Regions from separate parts of the Homo sapiens genome. Here region 1 is linked to region 2. Evidence: fine-mapped expression QTL. Tissue or cell type: whole blood. Region 2 holds a variant in brackets; the other region holds the start of a gene. All regions are shown on one strand. Distances are from middle to middle.

What was found. PIP is the estimated chance that this variant, and not a neighbour inherited with it, causes the effect.
Region 1: APOLD1 starts here. The variant in region 2 is fine-mapped to the expression of APOLD1 in whole blood (TOPMed, PIP above 0.99).

Annotation. Positions count from the first base shown.
Region 1 is chr12:12,782,326-12,790,429 of GRCh38, reverse strand. It overlaps APOLD1 (apolipoprotein L domain containing 1), which reads right to left and starts at 4,771. Exons shown (of 2, transcript NM_030817.3): 1 at 4,736-4,771; 2 at 1-3,521. The coding sequence starts at 4,738. The coding sequence ends at 2,778. RefSeq lists silencers at 3,245-3,354, 3,385-3,484.
Region 2 is chr12:12,828,142-12,836,247 of GRCh38, reverse strand. DDX47 (DEAD-box helicase 47) reads right to left here. Exons shown (of 12, transcript NM_016355.4): 12 at 6,267-6,825. The coding sequence ends at 6,694. Among named protein-coding and RNA genes, the nearest start is that of DDX47, 19 kb to the right of the region's middle. RefSeq lists an enhancer at 162-1,361. The variant T/C (reference allele first, on the strand shown) is at 3,639.

The DNA.
Region 1 (8,104 bases), 46 kb after region 2:
AATGGTTGTACCTTTATGCCATAACACAACTAATAATGTGAAGTACATTCTAAAATGATTTAAAATGATTGTGAAACAAAACAATTCATCTAAAATGAATTGTTTGATCTAAAATGCTAGCATCTGGCCAGGCGAGGTGGCTCATGCCTGTAATCCCAGCACTTTGGGAAGCCAAGGTGGGCGGATCACATAAGGCCAGGAGTTCAAGACCAGCCTGGCCAACATGGCGAAACCCTGTCTCTACTAAAAATACAAAAAATTAGCCGGGTGTGCTGGTGCACATCTGTAATCCCAGCTACTCAGGAGGCTGAGGCAGAAGAATTGCTTGAACCCAGGAGTCGGAGGTTGCAGTGAGCCGAGATCAAACCACTGCAACTCCAGCCTAGGTGACAGAGTGAGACTCTGTCTCAAAAAAAAAAAAAAAATGCTAGCATCTGGGTGAAACAGTCTAGGAGATGACACCAGCTTGAAAAGAAACCAATATAAATTTCAAAATAAACCAGCATACAGACCAATTGCAATTTATAGAAAAAATAAAAATGTAGAAACATCACCTCCTCTCCCCGACCCCAGTACTGAAATTATACTTCCTCAGACATACTGCCCCATCACTGGGAAGGGTGCGGACAGATTGGGTACATTTATAGAATATTAAATAATTAAGTAACAGAGGCACCGTTTTTGCATGTATGGTCCCAAAGACTTTTCAACTTATTTTTCAACATTACAGTTGTTAAGAATGGAAATTGAAGGAATTGTACATATTTTCACTGACAGTTTCTTACAGACCCCAAAGTGAAAATGCAACACATCACCACCATAAGACAAGCGATTTTGTCTGTCACCCAGAAGACATAACTTGATAGGACATCAGGCTTGCAAGTTCTAAGTGCTTCCTTCACATACCTCTAAACTTTTTATCTTTCCTGAACTAAATAGATTCCTTTTCCAGGTCAAGTGATACCTTCTGGCAAAATACCTTCAGGATAAATATGCTTCCTCAGTTATATATCCCACAATGCAAGCTTCCATTACAAGCTTAAACTCAGCTCCTGGTCTTGCCATTCAAGACTCTCCACACTTACTTCAAAGGATCACTTAAAACACTAGAGAAAAAGAATCTCCCTGAAGGAGAGAGACAATCAAGGAAAGCAATGCTATTTCCAGCTCATGCCCTGCCTTAGAAACTCAAACTTAATCTCATCTCTTGCAAAGAGCCTCAGCAGTCTCCCATTTAGAAACTTGCTCTTATTATTTTCTAAATGTGGTGATTAAATAAAATTAAATGCAAACACTAAACAATAATTAAAAATTAAATTACAAACTTAAAATAAATAAAAAATACATGGACTGGCACTTTTCAGAGAAGGTAATAATAGACAAAGGTCAGTTTCAGGAACTTCATATTCCTTTCTGTACCAGTTTCTACAACAGGCGGGAAACACTGCCCCCTAATGGGCTTTTAGTGTTACATCCCTTGTTCATACGGTGAGACACTGCCCCAGGGTGCACGTACGCGTGCTCTCTCTCTCTCTCTCTCATTTTGGCTTCTGGGACACAGTCTGTCCTTGGTCATCTGTGAACGACTCTGAAGACCATGGAGTCCCTAGAGAAGCCGTGAGACTTCGTGAAAGCTCATCAAGGGGATTAGAAGTTAGCATTTGTTGCAGTGATTTTCAAACCTTAGTGTGCCGCAGAACCACCCAGAGAAATTGTTTAAACTCAGGTTGCTGGGCCCCACAGCCAGAGTTTCTGATTCCATAAATCAGGAGGGTTGTGTCCAAGAATTTGCCTTTCTAACAAGTTCCTGGGTGATGTTAATTTGCCATTCCAGGGACTACACTATATGAGCCAGCACCATCATGCTAGGCACTTTGGCTCATTTAATATCTCACAACAGGGTGAGATTTTATCATCTTTGTTTTACACAGTCTCAGAGAGATTAGGTGGCTACACTCACACAGTAGTGACAAAGCCTGTCTCAAGCCCAGGACTGTCTAACTCAAAACCCATCACTCTCTTCTGAACACAATGATGTCGGGAAATGAAGTTGGCAGTCGCTCCATCTATCTGGCCCTCAGCTTCATGTGAGGGAGCAGGACTTAGATGACGGCTTCACGGGCTTCCCCTCTGAGTACTTGGAGGACTGGATTGGGAGCCACTCAGGAAAGGCCTACTTCATACCCAGGCCGCATCTGGGAGTAAGTAAGCTGAGGGGAAAGGGAAGAGGAGGAGATATCAGCACCAGGGTCCTCTCTGGGTTCTGAACCATCCTACAACGTTCAGAGAAGGGCTGATTTGCTCTGGATTCTGGAGTTCTTTGTATCAGAAATTCTGGAATAGAGGCAAACGCCTTCCTCACGCACATTTTGAGGACTTCAAAGACTAGTAGGACTTGGAGAGGACCCAGAGGATGGCACTCTCTCCAGTCTCAGGCCAAGCCACCAGGGCAGGGTCAGGGACCCCGAAATAACTTTAAAACAGGAGTGCCTGCCCAGCTGTGTTTAGACAGAAAGTTTTTGATAAAGGAAAAAGAGTTTTTGGGTCACATTTTTCCACTAGGAAGACTGAAAAGTCCGTAGCACTCAAGCCCAGGCAGATGTCACAGTGATGGGAAAAGAAGGGCTTTGGGGACCTGCCCACTTCAAAAACAGTTTTTCTCATCCTTTGCCTTCGGCTCCTAACCCAGCTTGGTGTTTTCCTAAGGGAGCTACAAATTCTGGAGCATCCCATGAGGATGATTTGCTGGCCTCGGTCATTAGGGGGAAAGGATGTTCTCAGAAAAACAGCCCTGCACGCTGGTCAGCAGAGATCTTGAGGTCGTGGCCACGACTGGACTTGGTGCAGAGCTGAACCCGAGACTCCAGCTGCTCGCTGAGTTCGTCCAGAGCCCCGGTGCAGGACTCCAGGCTCTCGGCCAGTTTCTGAATCTTGGCCTTCAGCACGGCCTGGCTAACCTTGGTGTCCCCCTCCGCCCGCCTGGGGATGAGGAAGCCACGTGAGCCAAAGAAGACGATGAAGTAGACAGAATTGTACAGGGCGATGGAGGCGTTCCTCCCGCACTGCAGCAGCTGGCGGTCCCCGCAGCCCTGCCAGCGGCAGAAAAACTCGAGGCAGCTCAGGATCTCTCGCATCTGGTCCTGGCAGGTGGCCGCGATCTCCTGCACCCTCCGCAGCTCCCGGGAGTTGCAGAAGATCAGCGAGAGATCGGACGTGATGGTGACGGCCCCTCCGGCTGTGGCCACCCCCAGCCCCACGGCCGACACCAGCAGCGAGGTCCCCAGGGTGACCGGGCTGAGCGAGAGCCCCACGATGGCGGCGAGGGCGCCCGTTGCGCTCAGCGAGCTGCCGGCCACGTTGGCTACGAGGGAGCGCCTGCGCAGGCGCTCCAGGCGCCGGGCCACCTCGCGCAGGCGCAGCACCTGGCCGTGCAGCCGGCCTCGGCGGTCCAGCAGCAGTCCCTGGAAGCGCCGCAGCGCGTCGGGCCCATGCGGCTCCCGGGCCGCCGGCCTCTCCATTCCCTGCGGGGACATAGACACGCGGTCAGCCTGGAGTCTCCGTGCCAGCCGCCGCTCCCGCCCTGCTGCCCGGACGCCAGCGGGAACTTGGCACGAGTTCAGCGGAGCAGCCACTGCCACGCTAGGGGAACGGGTCTGTTTCCAGTGGATCATGAGACGAGTTCTCAAAGACCTGTTCTGGAATCCGGGGGGAGCCACACAAGTTCTCAGGACCTTATCTCTGCATATGGAAATAGGAATAATGCTATCTTCTGCTTCTCTCCCAGGGAACGTTAACGATGGGCTTCATCAGCTATGTGTTAAATAAGATTTAAACTGGGAGGGGCGTGGTATTAGAAGGCTTCTCCAGTACTGAGGCCTTTGCTCTACTTAAGATAACACTTTGTAAGTGGTGGGTTGTACAGTTTACAAAGCCCTTTCATCATGTGAAAATTGGATCCTAGGAGTTTTGCAACACACTTTTCTCTCTCTCTAATGAATGAAAAAGACTTCACCAAAACCTCAAAAATCGTATTTTCTACCAAGCAGAAGAAACATCTAAGTTAGATGCTTGCCTGAAGCAACTCTTCTGCTTGTGATTCTTCCAGGCTCTTTTCTTAGAATCAAGCCTAAAATGAGATTTGCACTGTTTATTCTAACTAGGGCTCCTTGGATCTTCAGAAACATCAGTCTTTGCTGGGTGCTTGATTTAAACTAAGTCACATTAAATTAATACCATTATGTCTCTTTGTTATGAAAGTTTTCTTTTAAAAATGAGTAATGGTTGAATAAAATAAAGTGGCCAAAATTTTTGTTCAACAACTTCTACCACGTTGAAGCCAACTGAAGATGACTGACAAAGATACGAACAAGTTGTACATCTTGGGGGAAAAGTATATTCATCCTAGTTGCAGATTCCCACCTTCATGTCCACTGTACTCTTCATTATTAGGAACTTCTTAAAAGTGGCAAATGAGCCATAGAAATAGAGCATTTCAAAACTGAGCTATCAGGGCAGAAATCATTCTCATCTGGAAGAATTGCCTGCATCAGACATCAGATTCTAGAAGCAGCTGATTCTTCACAGAGCCCAGTCTAGAATCCTCATCTCCTTATTCACAGGACTTAATTTTACTTCCATGCTTCCATAATCCAACCCACCAGGGATAATTTTCCAGGTGAAAAGAGAAAATGAGAAAAAGTCATCCCGAATATATGCCTCAGGGTTCCCCACTTACCATTCACTTCTGTCTGCCTCCAGGAAAGTAAAATCTGAGGCTGTTTCTGGATGAGTGTGCTTTATAGTTCCAGAGAACCAATGGCTGCCCTGGGAAAGCCTTGTCTCATTCTGAGAATTTGCCATTTCCTGTCATGACCCCTGCTGCCTTCATCTAGAAGGACGTGACATGGTGGAAAATGACCTGCCAGCACAGCACATCCCGTATTTAGGAAACGAACATTGTGTGTTCGCTTTCCCCTGAACGCAGGAAGAGAACCACAGGCTCTTCCCTAACTTGAAACAAGTGTGTTGTCATTCTCCCAGTGGGATACCCTGCCTTTCCTGAGAATAGCTAATGACGCGATAGAGAAGGCCTTCAAACGCACCCCAGGCTGACCAATTATAGTGTTTCTTGAGGCCACCATTACAAAATCATATTTTAAAAGAAAAGGGAGGGGGTGGAAAACCCTCATATCTGACATAGCCGCTCATACTCCACTGCTGTATTTTTAAAAGCGTTGTGAATCTGTGAGTGGCTGGAGCCTGGGATCATTTGGCATGCAGCGGGTACCCTGCAGTCCTAAGAATGCAAGGCCACACCCACAGGAAGTGCTGCGTGCAGTTTTGGGCATCTCCAGCTGTGGAGAAGACATTGGCGGTCTCAGAAAGGGCACACTCCAGGTCACATGCATCAGAAAAATCAGTGGGGTCAGGCTGCATGAGGAGCTAATTGTACACTTTCAACCACAATAGGGCATTGGCTTCCCAGGTTTTCATTTGAAGTAGCAATTGTAGCCCATGTGATAGGGAAATGAGTGGATTCTGTCTACAGGGTCATGAGGCATGGGCTGAAGGGCAATTATTTTGATAATTCAGCACAGAAAAGTGAATGTAGCTTCTGTGGACTTGCTGCAGACCAGACCAGATGGAACATAGATATCTCTGGGGCATTCAGAGGTGGTTGGAGCTCAGCCTAGGAATTCAGTCCTACTACATGTCCCCAAATCCATCCATCGTCCTTCTAACCCTCTCCTCCAGATAAGGAGGGCCAAATTCGTTTCTCACTTGAATAAGGATTATCTCAACTCTCTGGCTTACCTGGAAAGCCTTAACAGCCGTATCATTCTGGAACATGATTAAATCCCCCACCTTTATGACTATACTTTGTATTTATCAACACAGTATAACAACAGTAGCAACAGAAAGGACAACCATAGTCCTTTCAAACTTGATTATTCTAGATTTGGTCCACTTCCAAATATTCTTGTTACAGCTCCTCAAAGGATAGCTGTAACCTCAATCTAGATGCCTCCAGTGTGTCCTTTTGAGGTTAGAAGTGGAAGAATATCCTCCTCTATCTCCATAGACATGGTCACTCCAAATGGGATGTGGGCCAGCGCGAATTGGGGAGGTAGACAAGAGGGAACATACCACTGATTCTTCAGCTGACACATGTTCCTCTAACTTCCCTGGACATCATCCTGTGTGTTTTGGGTTTAGAGGAACACAATTAAATCTTTATTTTATAGATGAGGAATATTGCTGGGATACAGGGTCTTCCTCAGAGCATCAATATCATAGTACAGAGGTGGGATGAAGAACCAGAAGGTAGAGGAAAATAGACAGCGTGTATACTGACCTCAGCCCATATCTTGGAATTTGTTTTTCTCTGTGTTGAAAGCCCATTTTCTTTGTATTTGCCTCTTTATGGAGGCAAAAAAAATTGAGTTAATTGACAGTTTGGGCTAAAGTTTTACTGCCCATAAAAACCTGGTACTTTGGCCAGTCATGGTGGCCCATGCCTATAATCCCAGCACTTTGGGAGGCAGAGGAGGGAGGGTCGCTTGAAGTCAGGAGTTCGAGACCAGCCTGGTTGACATAATGAGACCCCATCTTTACAAAAAATTTAAAAATTGGCCGGGCATAGTGACTCACACCTGTAGTCCTAGCTATTCAGGACGCTGAGGCAGGAGGATCACTTGCACCCAGGAGGTCAAGGCTGCAGTGAGCTATAATGGTACCACTGCAACACAGCCTGGATGATAGAGACCTTGTCTCAAAAAAAAAGCAAAAAAAAAAAAAACAAAAAAAAACCAACTGGGGCCGGGTGCAGTGGCTCACCCCTGTAATCCCAGCACTTTGGGAGGCTAAGGCTGGTGGATCACCTGAGGTCAGGAGTTCGAGACCAGCCTGACCAACATGGTAAGACCCCGTCTCTACTAAAAATACAAAAAAAACAGCTGTGTGTGGTGGCGTGCTCCTGTAGTCCCAGCTACTCAGGAGACTGAGGCAGGAGGATCACTTGAACCTGGGAGGCAGCAGTTGCAGTGAGCCGAGATCACACCGCTGCACTCCAGCCTGGGTAACGGAGTAAAACTCTGTCTCCAAAAACAAACAAACAAACAAACAAAAAACCCAACTGGTACTTCACCTTGTTTATAAGAACTGACACTTGAACTTAGCGATTCAATTCAGCATTTGTTTACTTTTATTTATTTATTTATTTTTGAGACGGCGTCTCAGTCTGTCGCCCAGGCTAGAGTACAGTGGCATGATCTCAGCTCACTGCAATCTCCGCCTCCCAGATTCAAGCAATTCTCCTGCCTCAGCCTCCCGAGAAGCTGGGATTACAGGCGTGCACCACTACACCTGGCTAATTTTTGTATTTTTAGTAGAGACGGGGTTTCGCCATGTTGGACAGGCTGGTCTCGAACTCCTGACCCCGGGTGATCCACCTGCCCCAGCCTCCCAAAGTGCTGGGATTACAGGCATGAGCCACCATGCCCAGCCAGCATTTGTTTAATTTCATATAGTAAAGACACAATAACAAATTTTAGGAACAAATGAAGGCATTTTGTTCAAAAGTTCTGTGTGGTCAGTTTCCACAAAAAAAAATCTGTGGACCACATCCTCAGACTTCTCTTTTAAATTGTTTGTTGGGCACTTCCAACACATCACCCTAGAGAGACTACACTGAAAATGGTAGTTGGCCTTCAAACTAGCCTTCAGATCTGTTCAACTCTTTTTTTGTTTTGTTTTGTTTTGTTGAGGCAGGGTCTCACTCTGTCACTCAAGTGGGAGTGCAATGGCACCATCACGCCTCACCGCAGCCTTGACCTCCTGAGATCAAGCAATCCTCCTGCCTTATTTTTTGACTTTTTGTAGAGACAAGTTGTCACTGTGTTAAACTCTTGATGCAGCTGAACCGCGGCATTAGCTGTACTAGTTTGAATTCTGAGTCCTCGAACCATGAGGAAATTCAGTGTAGGAAGGACGAGAAAGAGCTTTTTAAGCATAGGAATCTTCAGGCCCCAGCCCTGGAGAGTCTAATTCAAGAGGTCTGGAGTGGGATCTGGGAGAATACAGGTGATTCCTACCTGCAGCCAGG
Region 2 (8,106 bases):
ACAAACATGGCACCCTGCCTCTATTAAAAATACAAAAATTAGCCCGGCATGGTGGCACATGCCTGTAATTCCAGCTACTTGGGAGGCTGAGGTGGGAGAATTGCTTGAATCTGGGAGGTGGAGGTTGCAGTGAGCCAAGATTGCACCATTGCACTTCAGCCTGGGTGACAGAGACTCCATCTCAAAAAAAAAAAAAAAAAAGATTCTGTGACAGAGATAGGCTTGACGGTCTTCTTTCCATATTAACAAATGAGAAAACTCAAGGTTCAGAGAGGTTTAGTAACTCCCACAAGGTCACACAGCAACAGTGAACAGTCCGATGACTTACACTTTCCCCACCTGTTCCTTTCCCAATTCCTCCTGCTCCTTCCGGCCTCTTTGACGGCACTGGCAGATGATTGAAGGGTGACAGTGACAGGAGACATCCTTTGTGTTTGGATGGTATAAGGGGATGGATGGCTACGAGCAAACAAAAGCTCCAAGACTCTGAGCAGACCTTGGGGCCCACCTCCTAGAGACTGCATGGTTCCAGAGGAGCCCATTTTCTTCCTGTCTCCTTTCCACTTGGCACCAATCAGCTCTTCACTTCAGGTGAGACTGTTCAGTGCTATTTCCCAGACTTCAAGTTTCTGCAGTTATTTTTAGCGGTAGTTTTAGTGCATACCTGGGATAGGTGAGGCATGAAAAGGAATGCGGGTGTGGGTAACCCTTCAATCTCTAGAGTTATGGTCTGAGTCTCTTGTCATTCCAGCTAAAGAGGGGTGACTCACACCCTGATTTCTTACCTGCCCAGAGGCTAGATTTCACCCTAAGAACCATGTGGATTAGAATGTCTTGTATATTCTCTTAGTTTTAAGGACACAGTTTCTTGATGTTGCTTTGTTACCCACTTTTGATAACTTGGATCCTTTCATTTTCTGTAACCAACACCACAGCCTGTGGTTCTTTCTGGTCCTATTTCCCAGGGTTTTGAGGGACCCAAGGTAGATAAAGTCTCCAATTTAGGTTTGTGGATGCCTCTGCAGGCAGAAAGCTACTTGGAAAACACTCTGTCTGTAAGCAAGATGTCCTTAAAGAGCCAGCCAAGTTCTGGGATATTCATTGCATTTTTTGAGAGACTGAGAAAGAATAATCATGATCTAGTTGGTCTAGGCCCCTCTTAGCAACTACAATCCCCTCAGAGTGCCCTCAGAGAACCTGCTTCATGGTTCCCTGGAATTCTGGGCCTGCTTTAAGCCTGAAATAGCCTATCCAACTGAAACCCTCTCACTAGGATCCTAGGACCCCTTCATAAGATAGAGAGGTGTTTTCCTCATTCTCACCCTCACTCAGCTCTGTACAGAGGAAGTAAAACTAGGCTAGCCAGTACCATGAAGCCATTGTTACTGCAACTGCATACAATGAATACTATATAAATCAGTTTTATAATTCAGATGAGAAATAAGAAGACATTTTCTCTGGGCTGATATCATATGACTATTCCAAGATACTCCCTTTATTAAGTCATAAAAGTTAGATGTATCTGTTTACAATTAGGGTGGGAGAAGATTGTTTTGAAGCTCACAGTTTCTTTTTTTTTTTTTTTGAGATGGAGTCTCGCTCTGTCGCCCACGCTGGAGTGCAGTGGTGCGATCTCGGCTTACCGCAAGCTCTGCCTTCCGGGTTCACGCCATTCTCCTGCCTCAGCCTCCCCAGCAGCTGGGACTACAGGCGCCCGCCAACACGCCTGGCTAATTTTTTTGTATTTTTAGTAGAGACAGGGTTTCACCGTGTTAGCCAGGATGGTCTCAATCTCCTGACCTTGTGATCCGCCCGCCTCGGCCTCCCAAAGTGCTGGGATTAGAGGCGTGAGCCACCGCGCCCGGCCGGCGAAGCTCACAGTTTCTTAAATCAGGAATGCAGAACTAAGGAGTTGTACCAAGAAGGGAATAGCAGAGGGGTCAGGGACCTCGTTCCCCACTCCTAATCTAGAGCTTTTGGTATCTTGACTGCAAAGGCAATTTACATGTATTTAAGAGAATGACATTTTAACGTTCTTCTATACTCCTATTAATACCTAACCAAATACTTCTGAAGACCCATCTCCTGTCTTCTCCACACTTTGTAACTAGTTCTCCCCACCATTTTATTCCGTAATTGCAACCTTAAACCCCGCAGAATGTAGCAGAGTCCACAAAGATGCCTTGTACTGGGCTGAATAGTATCCCACGAAAAGTCATGTCTACCCATGTATTAATCTGTTTTCATGCTGCTGATAAAGACATACCTGAGACTGGGTAATTTACAAAGAAAAAGAGGTTTAATGGATTCACAGTTCCACGTGGCTGGGGAGGCCTCACAATCATGGTGTAAGGTGAAAGGCACGTCTTACACGGTGGCAGGGAAGAGAGAATGAGAGCCAAGCAAAAGGGGAAACCCCTTATAAAACCATCAGATCTTGTGAGACTAATTCACTACCATGAGAACAGTATGGGGGAAACCGCCTCCAGGATTCAATTACCTCCCACCGGGTCCCTCCCACAACACGTGGGAATTCTGAGAGTACAATTCAAGATGAGATTGGGGTGGGGACACAGCCAAACCATATCAACCCAGAACCTCAGGTGACCTTATTTGGAAATAGGATCCTCGCAGATGTAATTAGTTAAGATGAGGCCAGGGTGGATTAGGGTGCACCCTAAATCCAACAACTAGTATCCTTCTAAGAAGGCCTTGTGAAGACACAAAGATATATGGGGCAGAAGGCCATGTGTGGATGGAGACAGGGATCGGAGTCATGTTGCTACAGCCAAGAAACACCAAGGACTGCAGGCAACCAAGGGGCAATGCTGGCTAAGAAGCCAGGAAGGACTCTTCTCTAAAGGTGTCAGAGAGAACATGGCCCTGCCCACACCTTAATTTTGAACATCTTAAAATCCAGGACCATGAGAGAATAAAGTTGTTATTGAAAGTCACCCAGTTCCTGGTACTTTGTTTCAGTAGTCCTAGGACATTAAAACGTACTTCTGTAAGGGTATCAGCAGCACGACCTATCTCACCTTAGAGGACAGGAGAGCACAGGAATGACTGACTAATAGAGCAAACCTACATGTCTTGTTTTTACTTACTGGTGGATCACGTTCATTTCTGCGCCTCCTGCCTTTTGCAATGGCATCTGTGCATTTTCTGCTGGGGACTCCATGCTCTGGACCTGTTAATATACCTGAAGACACACCCGTCCACATTTCTTTCACTAGTGTCCTTTCTTCCCATCCTAGCAAAGCATAATTATGCATATACATTAGAGATGGCAGTTAAGCTTTCGAGTAGTGGTTTTTAACCTTTTTAGTCTCCCCAAAAATATGCATATTCCTCAGTGGTCCACAAACCCAGGCCAGAGACCACTGCCTATTTGGAAAGTTCAGACATCCTTGAGGATGATTCCAATCTCTCCTTCTTACCCCCTACTGGTACACCAATTCCATTTCAGCTTGCTTCTGAAGTCCTCCACTGAGCTGAAACAGCATCCATGGGCTGACTCGAAGAGAGCTGCTATCCTAAGCCACCCTGGAGAGTCCCATCGAGAAAACACAATGTTAATGGAGAATTAGCCCCAAGTGGGAGGCACAACTCATAACAAATAGGAACAGGTACGGCCC[T/C]GCTCAACCATTTGCCTCCCGATTCTGGTACCCCTTTCTCCTTTCCTTTCCCTTGTATCTCCTACCTCCTCTAAATTATCCTTCACACAAAGGTACCATAATAAGCAGCAATGAAATTCAGAGCAAACAAAACAAAAAGTAAGTTATGCACTGTATTTCAATTCATTGCTAATGCCTTGCCCACAGGTGCCCATTTTAAAATGCATCTGTGGTAGAAAACCCCCCGCCCCGATATTTGCAAAGATCTTCCTGCAGTGAACAGTCCACCCCGGACCATCACAGAGAATTTTATTGCCTTGTACTCTTTTTTTTTCGAGACGGAGTCTCTCTCTGTCGCCCAGGCTGGAGTGCAGTGGCGCGATCTCGGCTCACTGCAAGCTCCGCCTCCCGGGTTCACGCCATTCTCCTGCCTCAGCCTCCCGAGTAGCTGGGGCTACAGGCGCCCGCCACCACTCCCGGCTAATTTTTTGTATTTTTAGTAGACAGGGTTTCACCGTTTTAGCCAGGATGGTCTCGATCTAACCTCGTGATCTGCCCTCCTCAGCCTCCCAAAGAGCTGGGATTACAGGCGTCAGCCACCACGCCCGGCCTGCCTCCTACTCTTTACTCCTCACCAGATACTCTGACTTAGATGGATAAGGAAAGTTTCTTTTCAGCCAAACTTCATTCCAATCTTAATCCATCAAAGTGATTATTTAGACGCTCTTTACCTTGGTTCTGCCACTCCAGACACACTCTTCTAATAAAACTGTTATAGACAACAAAAAGTATTAGGCATCTTCTATGTGTAAACATCCTCAGAACATGAGACTGTTTGTGATTGGGAATTTCCAAGTTGTTTCTGAATTTCAGTAACCCTCCCCCAACAACCAGCCCCTAGAGTGCCAATGCCTACCTCCTCCCCTGGAGCTGAGGCCCCAGCTCTACATCTCCTGCATCGCCTAATAGATGAGGACAAAAAAGATGAGTGGCCAGTGGGCACTAATGACAAGTGGATGAAATTAGGTCTCAGAATTATACATTTCTGAGGCATATTGATTTTATTCTTGTCACCTGGGGAAAAGAATCTACATAAGAGGCAGAGTGGCCGGGTGCAGCAGCGTACACCTGTAATCCCAGCACTTTGGGAGGCCGAGACAGGTGGATCACCTGAGCTTGGGAGTTCAAGACCATCCTGGCCAACATGATGAAACCCTGTCTCTACTAAAAATACAAAAATTAGCTGGGCATGGTGGTGCGTGCCTGTAATCCCAGCTACTTGGGAGGTTGAGGCAGGAGAATCGTTTGAACCAGGGAGTTGGAGGTTGCAGCGAGCTGAGGTCGCACCACTGCACTCCAGCCTGGCAACAGAGCAAGACTCTGTCTCAAAAAAAAGAGGCCAGGTACAGTGGCTTACACCTGTAATCCCAACACTTTGGGAGGCTGAGGTGGATGGATCTCTTGAGCTCAGGAGTTCAAGGCCAGTCTGGGTAACATGTCAAAACCCCATCTCTACAAAAATACAAAAATTAGCTGGGCATGATGGTGAGTGCCTGTAATCCCAGCTACTCGGGAGGCTGAGGCAGGAGAATCGCTTGAACCAGGGAGTCAGAGGTTGCAGTGAGCCAAGACTGTGCCACTGCACTCCAGCCTGGCAACAGAGCAAGACTCCATCTCAAAAAAAAAAAAAAAAAAAAAAAAAAAGAGGCCGGGTGCAGTGGCTCACACCTGTAATCCCAACACTTTGGGAGGCCGAGGCAGATGGATCTCTTGAGCTCAGGAGTTCAAGGCCAGTCTGGGTAACAAGCCAAGATCCCATCTCTACAAAAAATATAAAAATTAGCCAGGCGTGATGGCATGTGCCTGTAGTCCCAGCTACTCAGGAGGCTGAGGTGGGAGATCACTTGAGCCTGGAAGGTCAAGGCTGCACTGAGCTGAGGTCATACCACCGCACTCCACCCTGGATGACAGAGCAAGATTATCTCAAAAAAAAAAAAAAAAGAGTCTATGTGAGAAACCAGTCTTCCTAACCACCTGCTTAATTGAGGGAATGAAGGAAGTAAATCTATTTAGGGATTTTAAAGACCTCTGCTGTCTTACTGATAGACTTTGCTCCATCTGCAAGAAAAACACAACCTCCTTTTTTAAGTAGAACTTCTCTTTTTTTTTGAGACAGAGTCTCGCTGTTGCCCAGGCTGGAGTGTGCAATGGCGCGATCTAGGTTCACTGCAAGCTCTGCCTCCCGGGTTCACACCATTCCCCTGCCTCAGCCTCCCGAGTAGCTGGGACTACAGGCGCCCGCCACCACGCCAGGCTAATGTTTTTTTTGTGTGTGTATTTTTAGTAGAGACAGGGTTTCACGGTGTTACCAAGGATGGTCTCAATCTCCTGACCTCCTGATCTGCCCATCTTGGCCTCCCAAAGTGCTGGGATTACAGGCGTGAGCCACCACACCCGGCTGGGGCTTCCCTTTCAAAGCCATCCATCATCTCGTTTCCTTGTTGATTTTTTTAAGTAATAAATATTTATCTTAATTAGGACAACCAATGAATTTGCCATGTAATCAACACTGTCAGGTTCTTACCTATTAACAAGATCTTACTTAAATCTATAAGGCCCTTTAACACCAAGGTCTTTAAGGAGTTAGAATCTTTTAAAAATAATATTTAAATTTATTGTTTCACATTAGTTTGAATAAAGCACAAGCCAAGATGGTTTAAATATCATTTGCAGATGTCCAAGCTTCTTTACAATTACAGGTCATGGGCATCATCAACCTAGTCCTTGACTTGCAGCTAAAAAAGGCAAAAGGTCTGTGTGAAGTGACAGAAGAGCACACCCTACTCATGTCATGAGCAAGGAATCAAAGTCGAAGAACAGTAACAGTCTTGACATCAGCACTGTAAGAATTACTCTGCAGTAAACTCCAACCCAGAATGGGGAAGAATACTGAATTAGCTGAGCACATTCTGGACACAATTCTGACCAATTTCAGTCTCATGATCTCTGTTGGAGCAGGTTTCATTCTCCAATTCTCTTTTACAGAACAGCAGAACTCGAGCCTTCATAAAAGTGATTAACGGCCTTTCCGCTTCTTCATTTTTCCTCCAGCCACCTTGTTCCTGACACCAATAGCACCCTCTGTGTCATCATTATCTCCAGCATCCTCTCGCGAGCGTTTCTTCTTTTCTCCATGCTCCCTTAACTCCTGCAAGAAAAAAAGAGAGGATGGGATTGAAAATGAATTACTGGCACTGAAGGTTACTCATTCTAGTCCCCTCTCCTTAAGATCAAGTATCAAGTAACTTGCTGATGCCTGACATTAGCAAAGGAACAAGACCCAACTCCAAATATACAAAGATGTTAACCTTATTAGTAATCAAAACGTGAACACTAAAGTAAGGTTTTATTTTCACATGGCAGATTGGCAAAGACTTAAGAGAAGGGTAATCCCCAGTATTGGCCAAGGTGTAGAAAAATTCACATATACTCTCATTTATAGTGCAATCTGCTATAGCTTTTCTTGGGGCGGGGGACAATTTGGCATTCTGTATGAATTCAAATTTTAACTGTGTATGTCCCTTGGCCCAACAAGTGTACTTCTAGGAATTTATTCTAAGGAAGTAAATATGCAAAGCTGTACAAAGTAGGGTGTTTAACACTGTACCAAAGTAGAAAGAAACTGGAAAAAAGCGTAAGCATCCATGAATGTAAGTATTTCATACACATGATGGAATTCTTTGTAGCCATTAAGAAACGATCACATGAATCTGTATTTGTTGAAACAGAAAAATGTTAATCCTATATAATTAGATAAAGTCTAATTATGGCTAAAGAAAGAAAAATAGCCAAATGTTATCAATGGTTTTCTGTGGGGAATGGTTTACCTTTTCACTTACTACTTTAATCCTTTCTGTATTTTTTGAATTTTTTTCCCAATGCACATGTAATACTTTTACAAACAAAAAAATCCCATGTGGACAGAATAAAAACCAAATGTGCACCTCAGCTACTCCAAAAACAAACTATGGGCAAAGTTTCTCCATCCCTCAGACCAGAACTCCAGAAAGCAGGCAGCACTTCCAATGGTTTTCCTCTAGAATCTTCTCATCACCACTATTACTGTTACTACTACTTACAGGGTGAGTATCCCTTATCTGAAATGCTTGGGACCAGCAGTGTTTCGGACTTCAGATTTTTTCTAATTCTAGAATATTTGCAGATACATATGAGCTATCTTGGGGATGGGGCTCAACTCTAAACACAAAATTCACTTGTTTCATATATACCTTATATATGAAGGTAATTTTACACAATATTTTTAATTGTCTGAAGGTAATTTTACATCATATTTTTAATATTTTTGTGCATTAAAAACATTTTGACTGTGTCTTGATAGCAACCTGTCACACGAGGTCAGGCATGGAATTTTCCACTTGCGGCAATCCTTTTCGCACTCAAAAAATTTTGGATTGCTGGGCACAATGGC